Linked DNA regions of Homo sapiens: region 2 is linked to region 1. Evidence: fine-mapped expression QTL. A gene starts in region 1. The other region holds a variant in brackets. All regions are shown on one strand. Distances are from middle to middle.

What was found. PIP is the estimated chance that this variant, and not a neighbour inherited with it, causes the effect.
Region 2: its variant is fine-mapped to the expression of LINC02265 in whole blood (TOPMed, PIP above 0.99).

The regions. Positions count from the first base shown.
Region 1 is chr4:40,303,133-40,311,468 of GRCh38, forward strand. LINC02265 (long intergenic non-protein coding RNA 2265) reads left to right here and starts at 4,053. Exons shown (of 4, transcript NR_121641.1): 1 at 4,053-4,354; 2 at 5,145-5,196. RefSeq lists enhancers at 2,223-2,282, 2,383-2,482, 2,593-2,652, 4,473-4,522, 5,093-5,222 and 3 more and a silencer at 6,160-6,454.
Region 2 is chr4:40,260,658-40,268,993 of GRCh38, forward strand. No RefSeq gene overlaps it. Among named protein-coding and RNA genes, the nearest start is that of LINC02265, 42 kb to the right of the region's middle. The variant A/C (reference allele first, on the strand shown) is at 4,709.

The DNA.
Region 1 (8,336 bases):
TCATGTCTGTAATCTCAGCACTTTGGGAGGCTGAGGAGGATGGATCACCTGAGGTCAGGAGTTCAAGACCAGCCTGGCCAACATGGCAAAACCCTGTCTCTACTAAAAATACAAAAATTAGCCAGGTGTGGTGGCGGGTGCCTGTAATACCAGCTCCTCAGGAGGCTGAGGCAGGAGGATCGCTTGAACCCGGAAGGTGGAGGTTGCAGTGAGCTGAGATTGCACCACTGCACTCCATCCTGGGCAACAGAGCAAGACTTTGTATCAAAATAAATAAATAAATAAATAAATAAATAAATAAATAAATGGAAGGAGAGAAGGAAGGAGGATTGGGTTGGAGGAGCCTGAGACTGCAGTCAGTTTACAAGAAAGGTTTGGCCAGGCTGGTAAAGAATCCTGGAGCCAAAGTGGACTATTGGAATTGTCCCTCTTCTGTGCTCAGTCATTGGTTGGAGCAGCTGGCAGGAAGTGCAGCCTCCCTGTAGCCATGGTGTTGGATCCAGAAAGGCAGCTTCGGGGTGACCATCAATCACGCTCCCCACAGCAGGAGATCCAGCGGCATTAGCATGGCTGCCATGCATATCATTTCCATCTCACACATGAAACATGTTGAAAAATTGAACTTGAGAGTTTCTTCCAGTTCATTTTCCTGGTTAAGTAACTACTTGGACATTGTGACCCATTCAAAACCAATTTGTGATTTTCTTGTGTTTCAGTGCCCGACTAACAAGCCAAACAAATTAAGTACTTTGAAGGCTTTGTCTTGGTAACAGCTCTTTACTAAGCCTATTTGCCTTTTAACTCTAATTTTGGATTCCCAAAATTTTGCATTTTAGGCAGAGTTAAGCACAATGGACATTTTCATGCAAATCGAATCAATATAGAGCCCCAAATGGCAGCTACTGGGCCATATCCAGTCCACAGATCTGTTGGGCCCACACAGAATCTAAAAAAAAAATTGAACCAACATTCTAAAATGGAAAGATTTTATATTTTTATTTTATATTTTATTTTATTTTATTTTTTTTGAGAAGGAGTCTCGCTCTGTTGCCCAGGCTGGAGTGCAGTGGTGCCATCTCAGCTCATTGCAACCTCTGCCTCCCAGGTTCAAGCAATCCTCCTGCCTCAGCCTCCCGAGTAGTTGGGACTACTGGTGTAAGCCAATGCACCTGGCTAATTTTTTGTATTTTTTTTTTTTTTTTTTTTAGTGGAGATGGGATTTCTCCGTGTTGGCCAAACTGGTCTCGAACTCCTGACCTCAGGTGATCCACCTGCCTTGGCCTCCCAAAGTGCTGGGATTACAGCATGAGCCACCGTGCCTGGCCAAGATTTCATTATTTTTTAAAATGTTGATTCCTGGCTTCTTTTGAAAACAGCAGAGTTGAACATGGAGCCTGAATTTCTGCATGACCACATCATCTAAGGTGAAAGGGGCTGCTGCTTAAAATGGGGCTCTCCCTGTTTGCTCTGTGCTCCACTGCCCACAAAAGATACACATATGTCCTTACACCTGGCAAGAATCACTGGTTTATATTCCTGTCTAGTCCTTTGTGCAGAGTGCTAGCTGTTCCCCAATATTGCATTCTGTTCTTCCATAGTAATGTTCCAGATGGACTCATGATGGTCCCCCTAGGATTACAATTCCAGCTTCCCTTGCAGCTAGGTGTGGGCCAGTTACTAAGTTCTGGCCAAGGAGATGATTGTGGAATTGATGCTTGGAATTTCCAGACTGCCTTTAATGGAAAGCAGGATGTCTTCTCTTGCTCTAGTTCTTCTTCCTGCCTGTTGGAGTGTGGATGGGATAGTGGCAGCTGGGGCAGCCATGTGCTATCACAAGATGGAAGCTGTGTATGGAGCATACTAGAGCAAAAAGACAGGAAGAAACTACATCCCCAACATCATGGAATCACATGGCAGCTCTGGAAGGCTTATGCTCACACTCTTACCTAAGAAAAACAAAGTTCTGTTTTTATCTCTCATTTTTACAGCAGCCTCAGTTATATCTTAAAGAAAACATCTTGTTTGTAAGGGGGCCTGTGGCCCCTGGCTTAGACCAAGAAACTCTGGAACTGTGCAGGCAGCATCAAACCAAATTTCACCGAGAACCAAGATGAGCCATAATCCTTTCTATGGTAAAAGCAATATTGGAAAACCCTTTCTATGTCTCAGAGGCTCTGTTTGCAGGTGGCACATTGCATGTAGCTGTGAACTGGTTTATACAAATGGCTCCTTAGGGGCCGCTATTTCCCACCGCTGCATATCTCAGGTTCACAGACTACTGCACCACATTCTCACCTCTTTTTCTTCTCCACTTTGTCTTTAAAGGCCACACTTGAGCAGGCAGCCCTCCCACCTTTTCTCGGCAGTGCCATCTGAGTAGAAGCGAAGTAGAAACTTCTTGGTTGGTACTGTTCCGGTTTCCAAGGGACCAACGGAGGCTGGTGCTAAGTGCGAAACCATTGAGGATCTTGACAGTTTCGGTCTGAGCCCACCCTGTGGTATTATGTGAGGGCAAAGGGCCAGTTATGAAAATGATCTATGAAAAAATGACGCTATTACTTCCCCAGAGGCAGATGCCAAAAATGACATGTTATTGTGTTCCTTAGAATGATGAATGAAAGTATTGAATGAAATCTGAGTAATAATAATACCAAACTATTTAGTGTAGCCTGTGACAATGAGTCTTCCCAGCCAGGACTATTTTGGGAAATAGAAGCGGGAAAAAAAGAGTTGCTATTTACTGAGCACTTAAGGTGCTGCAAGTCTTATGCACATTTTCTCATTTAGTTATCTCAAAAATCCTACGATTTAGTATTATAGCAACTTTTTTTAAAAAGCAGAAGTGCTAAGAAAAGTTAAGGAACTCAACAAAGCTTGCATCGCTAGGAAGTAAAAAGCCAGAATTTTGATTTAAATCTAATGACCTATGTTTATTCCATATTATGCAGCCTCTTGGATGCTCTAATGCTGGCCTAATCAGGAGAAAGAGGCAAATGAGATCACGGTCAAAACTGCTGGGGAAGTCAGGTGCAGTGGCTCACGCCTGTAAACCCAGCACTTTGGGAGGCTGAGGAAGGAGAATCACTTGAGCCCAGGAGGTCAAGGCTGCAGTGAGCTATGATTGCACCACTGCACTCCAGCCTGGGTGACAGCGTGAAACCCTGTCTCAAACAAACAAGCAAAAACTACCAGGATTGAAAATATCTGAGTGAGGAAGATGGTTTGTAATGGAGGCAAGCTAGCAAGAAAAGAATGTGGGGGAGGGGTTCTATACCTGCATCAGATCATCTGAGGGCCCACAGTGCAGCTCCGTGGGCTCTGAGGGATTGTGTAAGAGGCAGCTGGCAGATATGCATGGGGTGGGCTGATCTGGCAAAAAGACGAGATAAATCTGAAAAATACATTTTACAGTGCTCTTTACACTGAAGAATCTTGCAGAGTAACTGGTAGATATGATAAGGGATAGAGAAGGAATTACTGCTTAATAGCTAGCCAGACACTGGCATTAAGGTTTCTGCATATTTAAATGGGTGTGCTTTTCCCATCCCTGACAGATTCTTTTGTTTTCCCCTACGTCCTTAGGTTCCTCTTTTATACAAATGGCCTCTATGTCCATTCACACTGTTCTGCAAGATCAAAGGAGAAAATAATTCCCAAAGCAATGTTCTGGGACACTGAGGGTCATCAAACATCAAGTGAAATTTGATCAACTTGCATTTTTATGTATTATCTCTTACCTTTTGCATCTTCAGAAAGGCAGTTTATCTTTATTTTCATTTAGTGGTAAAATATTTTCTAATAGCATCAGTGAAATCCTGTTGAAAGTCAATGGCCAGCTTTTTAGACATAAGACAAATGAGAGTTCTGTTGGGCACAACAGAACTGCTAACAGGTCTTTCACTATATTTCTTTCTCTCTCAGCCATTGATGGGTGTCTGACACCTCCAAACTCCCTCTATGCTGGGCTGATTAGAAGTGGAGGAGTTGTCTAAGATGCAACTGTTTGAACTTCAGCGGTGGAAGGTTGGGCAGCTGGGCCCCAGGTGTGTGCATTCAGACTGTAGCAGGAGTGATGCCCTCTCCCCGTGGTCCATCAAGCTCTATCTATAAGATGAGTCTCAGGAGACTGAGTACCAACCTCTAGACAGGAGCAGGGAGGGATATAAAATAGAAATGTTGACAAGGCAAAGAGAATGATGCCCCCAAGGCCACTGTGGTTCTACAGACTTATGTTTGTGCTCGAGTTAGAGCAGGATGAGGTTGGAAATGAAGCTTACAGAGTTACAAGGGACGGCGGTAGTTCCAGAAAGGACAGGGTCATCTGGTTTTTGGAAGGCATCTTGGAGATTTCATCGTACGTAAGCCATCCAGAGCTAGTATGTGGGCTGCATGATGTTGGGGACTTGCTTTCCTCCTGTCTTTTTGCTCTACTGTTCTCGATACAGAACTTCTCCCTGTGAGGTCCGATGGTAGTTAGGGAGCAATGGTGCTAATAGGAGGCTTTGTTAATGAGAACAGGGATGCCTGCTAGATTTGGGGTTAGAAAGGAAAACAAAGAAATGTGATGAGGTCCTAGTGTCGTTGGCAGCTGGCAAATTCATTACATCATCAAGCTCTCTGACTTAAGTCTCTTGCCTACCTTGCGCTGGTTAAAACGAAAATGTAGCCCTCAGCGCCGCAGAAAACAATTCTCCAGGGCTGTGACCATGGGGTGCCAGGGAGGAAGTGAAACTAATTGGGCAAAGACTCTTCCTGTCTGTCCATTCCTCTGTGTGGCCCTCTGGTAGAAGCAAGGATTTATGCATGTTGGGCTAGATATGAGTGAAAAAGGGGAAACATGGTCTGAAGGAGGACTTTGGGGTCAGGAATAGTCTAAAGTTTAGCAATTTTCTTTTGCTTTAGGAATCGCTCTTTGACCTCATTTTTTTTTTCTTTTTAAGTGAAGTTTCCAAGCAGAAAAGGCAGTATTTGCCAAGTGCTACAATTCACTCTAAGCTGATTGGGTTCTGAACACGAAGGCCCTTTTTACTCTCACAATCATTTAAAAACAGTAGTAGTAAGTGGGGTGTTTTCGCACTAATTTACAGGTTCCTCATTTGTTGCTATGATGACCCCCTGAGGCCGGAATTGTTATCCTCTTACAGATGGGGCAGTTGAAGCTCAGAGAGAAGTGGCTTGACCAAGGCCCAACGGCAGGTGAGCAGCAGAGTCTAGGGTTTTATCTTTCTATCACACCTGTCACCGTGGTGCCCGGGGATGAGCAGTCACTTCAGATAAACGTTGAGGTTTCTGTTACCAGCCGTCCTCCGGGCCCAGTGTGATTAGTCTACTTTGCTCAGCTTCCTGTAGGTGTGTTGTGATACTCTGTAGATACTTTATTTCCTCTTCTCCCCTAGTTCGTCCAGAAATACAAACTGTTGAATTTCTTTATCATCATTTTAGAAGTGATAAACATTCCCAAAAGGTATGTTATTTCTGCCATGGAGTTGGCAGTCTTTATTCATGCAGAATGCATTCTGGAGTGTTTTGTTTTAGTGAAAAGAAGACATTCTTAGAAATTGAAGACAAAGAGGAGAGGAAGTGAGCCCGCAGGGGGCATGTTCCCATGGGATTGGGAGTCAGGCATCTTTAGGTATCTCTGCTCCCTTCTCCTCGGGAGAAAGCAAGGACCACTGCCTTCTAAGTCAAGCAGACCTTGGTTCAAATCCCAGCTCTGGCGAAAATTCTTGAGGAAGATATTTAACCTCTCTGAGCCTCAGTTTCCTCATCTAGAAAATGGGGAGAATAATATCACTTTCTTCATTGGGTCATTGGGGGGAATTTAATGAAGTAATGCAACATTTTTCCAAGTGTGATATACATCCTATAGGTGATAGATGATTTTCTGGTGATATAGATATTCTAATGTAATAATTATAACATACACACACCAGCACACCAAAATCATCATTTCACAGGTCTGATTGCTTAGGGTGTGGCTAGGTAAGAAGCATATATAACCCACATTAAAGACTATTTTAATACAATGTTAAATGTGTGATAGAGATGGCATCAGTGGACTAGAGAGGGGGAACGACCATCACCAGGAATCCCTGAAGGAATGTGTATGAAAGTGGGCCCTGCCCACTTTGGTTGAAGTCTTCCACCCTGGTTGACTTTGGACAAAGGAAACCAGGCAGATCCAGGTTGGATGGGAAGGCTGGCTCTCCCTGAGACCTGAAGCCAGGGGCCCTGTGAAGAGTCCCTGTTAATTTCATCTTGCGCTGCTGCCCTCTGGTGTTCACGCGCTGTTCCCAGTGTCTTGAGAGCAAGTCAAAGCCGAGCCAGTGCGATTTAGAGCGTGAGCGCGACCCTGTCTGGCCCTTCTCCCACTTCTTTGTTTCCCTGCTTTCAGGGACTTTCCGAGTCCCATCAATCCCACCACCTTGGCCTATCCTCCCCCAAGTGTCACTTCCTCCTGCAGCCTAGTCGCAACTCCCCTTCCCCCAAACTCCTTACTAATCAGCAGAGGATGCTCTGGTTCTCAGGTGTGAACAACAAATGAGCTTAGTTTACTGAGGGGACATTTGTTTTAAAAGAGAAACCAGTTTAACAAAACAAAAACTCAAGTCAGCAGGAAGTGAAGTGGCTATATTTTTGAAATGAGGGTCTTTCCTTGTCTCCCAAGCTTCCTCTACAGAATGGAACCTGCTCTTTAAGCAGGCAGCCACATCCCGGGAATGAAATCCTTCAAAGGGAATGAATTGCCTTTCTTCCCAGCCAATTCTACAAGAAACTTTCAAATAGTTTCACTTTCTGTGTTCGAACATAATACTTATAACTGAGAACCCCAAATATAAGTGGTTTTTGTTAAATCACTGGATATAATAAAGGCTGGGTGTGATGGCTCATGCCTGCAATCCCAGCACATTGGGAGGCCGAGGTGGGTGGATCACTTGAGGCCAGGAGTTCGAGACCAGCCTAGTCAACATGGTGAAAGCCCATCTCTACCAAAAATACAAAAATTAGCCAGGCCTGGTGGCAGGTACCCATAGTCCCAGCTACTCGGGAGGCTGAGGCAAGCGAATTGCTTAGGTGGAGGTTGTAGTGAGCTGAGATCGTGCCACTGCACTCCAGCCTGGGTGACAGAGCGATACTGCATCTCAAAATAATAATAATAATAATAATAATTTATTTACCTCTCATGTAAACAGAGACAACCCAAGACTGTTATGGCGGCTCCCTGATCACCAGGTTTCTTCCATCTTGTTCCATTCTCTTCAACACATGGCTTCTACCTCGTGGCCCAAAATGGCTGCTCCAGCTCCAAGCTTGGTTCAGCGTTTCAGTCACTGGTCAGGAGGAAAGGAACAGAGAAGGGTACATTCTAGTTCTTTAAAGTGCTCACTGGCCAGGTGCGGTGGCACATGCCTGTAATCTCAGCACTTTCGGAGGCCAAAGTGAGAGGATCACCAGAGGTCAGGAGTTCGAGACCAGCCTGGACAACACAGTGAAACCCCATCTGTACTAAAAATACAAAAATTAGCCAGGCATGGTAACACATACCTGCAGTCCCAGCTACTCAGGAGGCTGAGGCAGGAGAATCACTTGAACCTGGAAGACGGAGGTTGCAGTGAGCTGAGATGGCACCACTGCACCCCAGTCCCCAGCAACAAAGCGAGACTCTGTCTCAAAAAGAAAAAAAAAGAAAAAAGAAAAGAAAGAGAAGTGCTCACCACTCTCCCTTACATCCTGCTGACCAGTCCTCAGACATGAGTTCACTGTCAGGTATACTGGGGAATGAGGCAGAGCAACCATGGGCCTTGGTAACATTTGACATTTTATTACTGAAGAATTAGAGAATGGATTTTGGAGACAATCAGCAATCTCCTCTATAAGCCGATGGCTGGCGTTGTGAAAGATGTTCAGACCCAAGAAGGATCAGATCCCAGAACTAAAAAGAAGCTCTAGCATTTCCCTCCTGTCATCGAGGAAATGCTGCTGGAACAACGGCTAATACTCTAAGCCTCGGCCGGGACGCGGAGATTGTAGTCTGGCTCTGCCTCTCGCCACTATCATGGCCTTGAGAGAGTTACCTAACATTCCAGAGCTCAGTTTCTCTCAGATGAGGTTACTTCCTGCTCTACAATGATGACTATATATACTTGTCATGGCATCAGGCAGTTAAATAGACAATGAATGTATTTTTTCTTCCTTTCAATCGTGAACATTTAATGTTGTGAATAATTAAGAATACACATAACTGGCTGGGCGAGGTGGCTCATGCCTGTAATCCCAGCACTTTGGGAGGCCGGGCGGGGGTGGATTACAAGGTCAGGAGATAGAGACCATCCTGG
Region 2 (8,336 bases), 42 kb before region 1:
GGACGCACTGCAACCTCCGCCTCTCGGGTTCAAGCGATTCTCCTGCCTCAGCCTCCCAAGTAGCTGGGACTACAGGCACCTGCCACCATGCCTGGCTAATTTTTGTATTTTTAGGAGAGACAGGGTTTCACCGTGTTGGCCAGACTGGTCTGGAACTCTTGACCTCAGGTGATCCCCCTGCCTGAGCCTCCCAAAGTGCTGAGATTACAGGCATGAGCCACCGTGCTGGCCGAACTCCTGCATTATTTAGACTCAACATACATTGTCCAGTTGCTATAAAACTTTTTCCATATGTCATTCTCTCGATTTCTGTGCTTACCTTTGTCAACCTAAAGGAGGAAATTGAGGCAAAATTAATATAGAGTCCATTTGGGCCAAGGCTAAGGACTGCAACCGAGGAAACACTGAGAAGTTCTCCTGAGAATAAAGGAGAGGTTTTTAAGGAAAAAAGGATCAATCAGGAGAGAGGGCAATTGCAAAAGTTGTTTTTTCAGGAATTTTTGCAGGGTTACAGGGATAACATTGATTAGTAATTGACTATATGTTGTTGAACTATAGTGTGTGAATAATGTTGTCTAGCATATGGCATATGTTAGGTAAATTTATGGGTACTTGGTGGAGACATTCAGTCTAGAGTCTATATAGCAGGAGGCTTCAAAATAAATACTTAGCTCAAGGTGGTAGTTGCTGCCAGACTCTGGCTGAGAGATGGATGAAGGAAGTACGCTGACACAGGTGTTTTACCTGACAGCGTGGCTAGGGGACTGCCGCTTAGCACCACCAGCAAGAGTGCAGCAGCAGCAGCTCCCATAAGCCAGAGACACTCGCATTTATTTAGTACAGATTTAACGACAAAGGCTTGGAGCAAACACAATTTGGGGTGATTAACATTGTCGACCCCCCCAAGTAGAGAGCAGTCCTGCACACGAATGAGCAAAGGTTGGTTTCTGGAGACATAAGTAAACAGATTTATCTAGATAAGTTCCTTTACATTCCCCTGTTATCTGCCTTTTGTTCTCAGCCCCCGGACAAGAGAATTTGGCTGCCTTCAGCCATAATCCTCTCCTGAAGCTTTTGCAAAACCTCCCTGCCTTCTAAGAAGGTTTGTGTCTTTCCCTATAATTTTTCCTACCACCCTGACTGATTTCCTACAGGTAGGGGGTGGAGTGAGCCATGACTGCTGTCTCATTTTAATGCCTCTCTGGGCCTGATCACTTAAAAGGGCTCATATTCCTCAGATAAAAAGTTTATTTTCTTTCTCACCTTGCCATGGTCCAGTAACAGTTTACAGACCTGCCCTGGATGGCAGGTTGCACTTTGAACAGTGATGATCTAATTCACTCATTCCTTCTCCGTTTAGGGAAGTTCACTCATTCACAGAATAAAACATTCATTACATATCTGTTATAAGCCAGACATATAGATGATTTGGGCTTATTCTGTTCTCAAGTGATTGCTGTGACACCATGACCATGTGTTATGATTATATAATTGAATTGGAATAGTCTAGTCATCAATAGAATGTCATGTTCACCATGATAGCACTGAAAAGAAAAATTGCCCCAGGCCTGGTCTGGGACAGACCCTTTTTTGGATGTGATGTAATTCACAACTTCCTTCTGGGGAGAAACTCAGTGCTCCTGATAAAATGCCCAAGCTGTTTTCTGATGGACTTTGATGGGATTAAGGCTTGTTCTGGGAAACAAGTCACACCTACCCTGCTCCCTGACCCCCTGCAGACTTTCAGACAACAGCCCAGTTGACCTTTAACCATATATATATATATATATATATATATATATATATTTTTTTTTTTTTTTTTTTTTTTAAGATGGAGTCTTGCTCTGTCACCCAGGCTGGAGTGCAGTGGGGCAATCTCGGCTCACTGCAACCTCCACCTCCCGGGTTCAAGTGATTCTTCTGCCTCAGCCTCCCAAGTAGCTGGGACTACAGGCGTGTGCCACCACGCCTGGTAATTTTTGTATTTTTAGTAGAAACAGGGGTTTCACCGTGTTGGCCAGGCTGGGTTCAAACTCCTGACCTCAGGCAATCAGCCCCCCTCAGCCTCCCAAAGTGCTGGGATTACAGGCGTCAGCCACCATGTCTGGCCTAACCAGCCATTCTTTTATTCTGTGTCTAGTCTAACAATGACTGTCTGGCCATTCTCTTTTCCTATAAAATGCCCTATCAAGTGTGAATCTTGGAAATAGACTCCTAGAGGCCATTTCACTTGAAGAAAGGCTGCAATACAGTTACAACACGTGGTCATAACTAAAGAGAGGGAAGGAGAGAATTCTGATGGGTTGATGGAGTTGGTGGGACTCAGTGACCCTGAGAAAGCTTTATAGTATTTCTGAGTCTCAGTTTTGTCATCTGTGAAATGGAGACAATAATACCTCAGGAGGTGGCTGTGAGAGTGAATATGGAATGGAAAGGGCGTGGTATCTGCCCAGCATGTATTAGTGCACCCTACATGCACATGATGATGATTATGATGGTGATGACTATGGACCCCTGATCTCTGAAAGAATTAAGAATATGCCATCCAAAACATGCCATTCTGGCATATTGACTTTTAAGTTAAAGGTATATGGAAAACAGTGGGTGCAAGGTCACTCCGACCTCTGTGCTGTTTCTTAAAAGCAGGAGATGGGCCGGGCATGGTGGCTCACACCTGTAATCCCAGCACTTTGGGAGGCCAAGGCGGGTGGATCATCTCAGGTCGGGAGTTCCAGACCAGCCTGACCAACATGGTGAAACCTCATCTCTACTAAAAATACAAAATTAGCCAGTCGTGGTGGTGCACGCGTGTAACCCCAGCTACTTGGGAGGCTGAGGCAGAAGAATTGCTTGAACCCAGGAAGTGGAGGTTGCAGTGAGCTGTGATCGCGCCATTGCACTCTAGCCTGGGCAACAAGAGCGAAACTCCGTCTCAAAAAAAAAAAAAAAAAAAGCAGATGAAATTCGAGTGTGAAAGACACAACATCCTTATCTTTGAGGTTGAGAAGTAGAGACCAGGAGTATTCTGCACAGACCTTGTTCAAATAACTCTTATCTTTTAAGCCTCTCTACATAATTTAGTTGCTTCTTCACAACTTACTACTCTTGGTCCAATCCAGTATATATTAATAAGTAACTGACTCTAGCTGCTTCTTTGGGCGTCTTCATTTCCTTAGCAGGGCTCCCGTGCCATGTAAAACTTATATGAAATAAAGTTGTATGCTTTTCTCCTGTTAATCGATCTTACATCAATTTAGCCTTTGTGCCCAGCTGAGACCCTAAGAGCATGGAAGTGGATGGAGTTTTGCTGTCCTTACATCTCCTCAAGTAGAGTCCTGGAGTTCCAGGGTATTACCGTAACCACCCAATGGGTTCACCTTGCTGGGTGCCTAGACAGAGTTGATTTCTCAGGACAGGGGAATTGCAATAGAGAAAGAGTAATTCAGGCCGGGTGTGGTGGCTCATGCCTATAATCCCAGCACTTTGGGAGGCCGAGGAAGGTGGATCACGAGGTCAGGAATTCAAGACCAGCCTGGCCAAGGTGGTGAAACCCCGTCTCTACTGAAAATACAAAAAAGGTAGCTGGGTGTGGTGGCGGGCACCTGTAATCCCAGCTACTTGGGAGGCTGAGGCAGATAATTGCTTGAACCCAAGAGGCAGAGGTTGCAGTGATCCGAGACTGAATCGCTGCACTCCAGCCTGGGTGACAGAGTGAGACTCCGTCTCAAAAATAAAAAAAAAAAAAGAGAGAGAGAGTAATTCATGTAGAGCCGGCTGTGCGGGAGACTGGAGTCTTATTGTTACTCAAATCAATCTCCCTGAGCATTTGGGGATCAGAGTTCTTAAGGATAATTTGGTGGTATGGGCTCGGAGAGTGGAGAGTGCTCACTGGTCGGGTTGAAGATGAAATCATAGGGGGTCGAATTGAGGTGTTCTTGCTGACTTCTGCTCCTGGGTGGGATTGCAGAACTGATTGAGCCGGATTATCAGTCTAGGTGGTGTCATCTGCTGCATTGGAATGCAGAGTCTGCAAAATATCTCAAGCACTGATGTTAGGTTTCGCAACAATGATGTCATTCCCAGGAGCAATTTGGAGAGGTTCAGACTCTTGCAGCCAAAGGCTGCATGGCTGCTAAACTGTAATTTCTAATCTTGTAGATAATTTGTTAATCCTACAAAGGCAAACTGGTCCCCAGGCAAAAAGGGGTTTTTCGGGAAAAGGCTATTATCAATTTTGTTTCAGAGTGTAAACTATAAACTAAATTCCTTCCCAAGGCTAGTTCAGCCTATACCCACAAATGAATAAAGACAGTTGAGAGGTTTGAAGGAAGATGGGGTCAGTTAGGTCTGACCTCTTTCACTGTCATAATTGCCTTAGTTAAGATTTTTGCAAAGCCGGTTGCATTATCTGCTCCGGGTCAAGCTCTGGGCTGTTGCTTCTCCCTCAGGCCTGAGATGGGAGGAGCAGATGCCCCATGGGCCTGGGAAAGGGGTCAAGCAGGTGCCTAGTGCCTGAGGGCGAGCAGGGGCTGCCTGAAGCGAGAAAGTCAGAGGGCTTGCCTTTGCGGCAACACTGCCAGTTCCCACAGGGTCGAAGCTCCTCCTGAGTAGTGGGCAGGGAAGAAGCCAGCCTGGGCCTGGGCTCCTTGGGGAGACAGGACTAACGCTGGAGCCTGGGCCACTGCAGGCCTGTGATCTGGAACCCAGC[A/C]AAGCCTCATCACCCTGCAGCTGTGGGAGCAGGCAGAGCCCTCCTGTGGTTTTAACTCTGTGGCTGTCACTCAGGGACCATTTATCGGCTGTTCTTTTTCACAACATTTCTGTTAGCTTGAGGCTTGGGCCGAGAGAAAAGAGGCTGCTGAAAACCGTCTGCGTCTGTTTTCTTCATGCTATTGGTAGGAGAAACACACTTGTCACATACTGAGTCATTTTTCTGCTTCAACCTCAATCTACTTTCTCTGAAAAAGTGAATCCATGTGGAAGAACTTATGGGAGAGGGATGAGGGAGAGAGGGAGGAGCAGAGGGAAGGGAGAGGGAGGAGGGAGATGGCAGCCTGTCCAGTGTTTCTAGCCTGCATCATATTGTGGAAACTTGACAAGTCTAATTCTCTGCCATGGCGAGGGTGAAGGGAAGAGGCGGAGGCAGAAGAGAAAGAGCAGAGCCTTAGGCAGGTGGTAGGTACAGCGCTGCCAGCCTGCAGGATCCTTTGTGAGAGTCAGAAAATGGTGCCTGCTCTGCCTGCACACCGCCCTATGCCAGCCCACAGAGTTTTGGCAAGCCCAGCACAGCTAGATTTCAGTCTCCACTGTCCCCTCTGCCTTGTTCAGTGAACGGCCTGTGCAACTGTGATCAGCAGCCCTGACTGGAGGAAGACTCATTCCAAATGCTGTGGCAGATGAAGGCTCACAAGGAACTGAAATAAGAAGTGGTAAAACTGCCCTCGGTTATGGCTACAGTATTCGATGAGTGTAAAGGTACAGTCCATTTCCAGAAAGCCTGACTATGAGGCCATCACTCTTACTCATTGAGTACAGCTCTTTACTTTCTCCATCGAGGCATCCACCAAACTCTACAAAATCTAGTTAATTGCTCCCTTCCCTCTTCCACCAAACTTGGACTCTCTCCTTGTTTCTATAAACCAAAAGGTATCTGAGACAGGTCTCAATCAATTTAGAAAGTTTATTTTTTCAAAGTTAAGAATCTGCTTGTGACACAGCCTTGGAAGGTCCTGACAACATGTACCCAAGGTAGTCAGACACATCTTGCTTTTATGCATTTTAGGGAGACACGAGACATCAATACATGTAAGATGTACATTGGTTTAGTCTGGGAAGGTGGGACAACGTGAGGCGGAGACTTCCACGTCATAAGTAGTCAAAAGACAAAAGGCTGCAGTGGACTCTTCGGAGTCCTTGATCAACCTTCCACTGAATACAAAATTTAGTCTGGCTCAGTGAATCTGCAATTTTACATAAATAATAGGGCAGAGGAAGCAATTGGATACGGATTTGTCCCATGTGAGCCTCTAAGGGATGACTTTGAGTTCTGTTCTGTCTGTCCTTTGTCCACAAGGAATTTCCTTGTAGGTAAATTGTGAGGGAAGTATGGAGCTTTTTATCTTTGTAGCCATCTTATTTAGGAATAAAATGGGAGGCAGGTTTGCGTGACATAGTTCCCAGCCTGTCTTTTCCCTTGGCTTTGTGATTTTGGGGTCTCGAGATTTATTTTCCTTTCACATTTCCATCCCTGTATTGCTTTTTTTTTACTTCCCAATGTTACAGGAAAGGGGTACTGATCCAGACCCCAAGAGAGGGGTCTTGGATCTCGCACAAGAAAGAATTGAGGGTGAGCCCGTACAGTAGAGTGAAAGCAAGTTTATTAGGAAAGTAAAGGAATAAAAGAATGGCTACTCCATAGACAGAGAACCCCCAAGGGCTGCTGGTTGTCCATTTTTCTGGTTATTTCTTGATGATATGCTAAACAAGGGGTGGATTAATTATGTCTCCCCTTTTTAGACCATATAGAGTAACTTCCTGACGTTGCCATGGCATTTGTAAACTGTCATGGCGGGAGTGTAGCAGTGATGATGATCAGAGGTCACTCTTGTGGCCATCTTGGTTTTGGTGGGTTTTGGCTGGCTTCTTTACTGCAAACTGTTTTATCAGCAAGGTCTTTATGACCTGTATCTTGTGCTGACCTCCTATCTCATCCTGTGACTTAGAATGCCTTAACCGTCTGGGAATGCAGCCCAGTAGGTCTCAGCCTCATTTTACCCAGCTCCTATTCATGATGATGTTGCTCTGGTTCAAATGCCTCTGACACCAGGAAGAGGCTTCCTATATTTCAGAATAAAATTTCTACACCTAAACTTTCTGCTGCAAATATTCACTACCTCTTCTAGGAAAGCTCTGGTGCCTGATTCTGCTGAAAGCATCTTTTTTCTCCCCGCTACTCGCCGCTCCCCCCACCCCTACTCCTTATCAAATGACCTCTCTTTCAGAAAGAAGAAAAGAAGATATAAAGGTAAGGGAACATGAGAGTAGAGAAATGCTGCCTAGCCACATACAATTTTTTGCTTTAATTCATTGTGTTCTTGGAGAGACTATCAAAAGCTTTCATCAGAGTCTCAAGAGTCCATGACCCCGGAATTTTAAGAGCTGCTGCTACAAAAGGATTCATGAAATCCTCTAAGAAAAAGGCACAGAAAGTTCAGGGAGGGTTTATTAAATTAATTTTACCCCACTGTCTGATTTTTGGCAGGTTATCTAATTTTTTTTTTTAACCATGAGCATGAACAGTGTTGCTTATTTTCCTGACTACCTTGGATGGCCCCCAGAATCATATTATTCTAATTGCCAACTAGAGGCCATCCCATTCTTCAGCCCACCACCCTCCAAGCTACCCTCCATTGTGTACCATGAACTGTAATCCAAGCAGCTCTCTTGTTGGGGTTAAAGGCCTCTAGTCCCACCTATATGCCTTTCTCTTGCTCTGTTCCCCAGCCAGCCCTTCACCCCAGCCAGGCTGGCTAATGTACTACCCATGTAAACCAAAAATAAAAGTTTAAGTCACTCAACGGACTGAATGGACCCCCCTTCTTGGCCAAAGGAATTCTAAAGTAAACCTGAAAAATTAGTTCAGGCCATCGTGGGAAAGGGGGTTGGACATGCCACATTATACCCTCCTTTCTTTGGAATTCAGGCACAACTGACCAGCATTAATATTAAAATAGGAACCTGGGCAACAGAAGGATACCTTTTCTCTAAAAAAATCAAAACAAAGACCAGGCCCAGTGGCTCACACCTGTAATCCCAGCACTTTGGGAGGCCGAGATGGGTGGATCACCTGAAGTCAGGAGTTTGAGACCAGCCTGGCCAACATGGTGAAATCCTGTCTCTACTAAAAATACAAAAAATTAGCCGGGCGTGGTGGTGTGCACCTGTAATCCCAGCTACTCGGGAGGCTGAGGCAGGAGAATCACTTGAACCTAGGAGTTGGAGGTTGCAGTAAGCTAAGATCATGTCACTGCACTCCAGCCTGGGCAACAGAGTGAAACTCAGAAAAAAAAAAAAAAAAAGAGACAAAAACCAAACAACCAAACAAACAAAAACCATATAACAACAACAACAAAATTAAAATGGAGATCTTAAGACTGACAAAACAGGCTTTTGTAGCAATAAGATACCAAATTCCAACCTAACTCTAGTATCGTGCCACATGTCAGATAGCAGGCCCTGAAGGAAATTATTTTATCCTCAAATATATTTATCTGATGTATTTAGATATGGCCCCACAAAGCTGTCTCTTATGGGAGAAATGTATGTCTGGTCTTGAACTC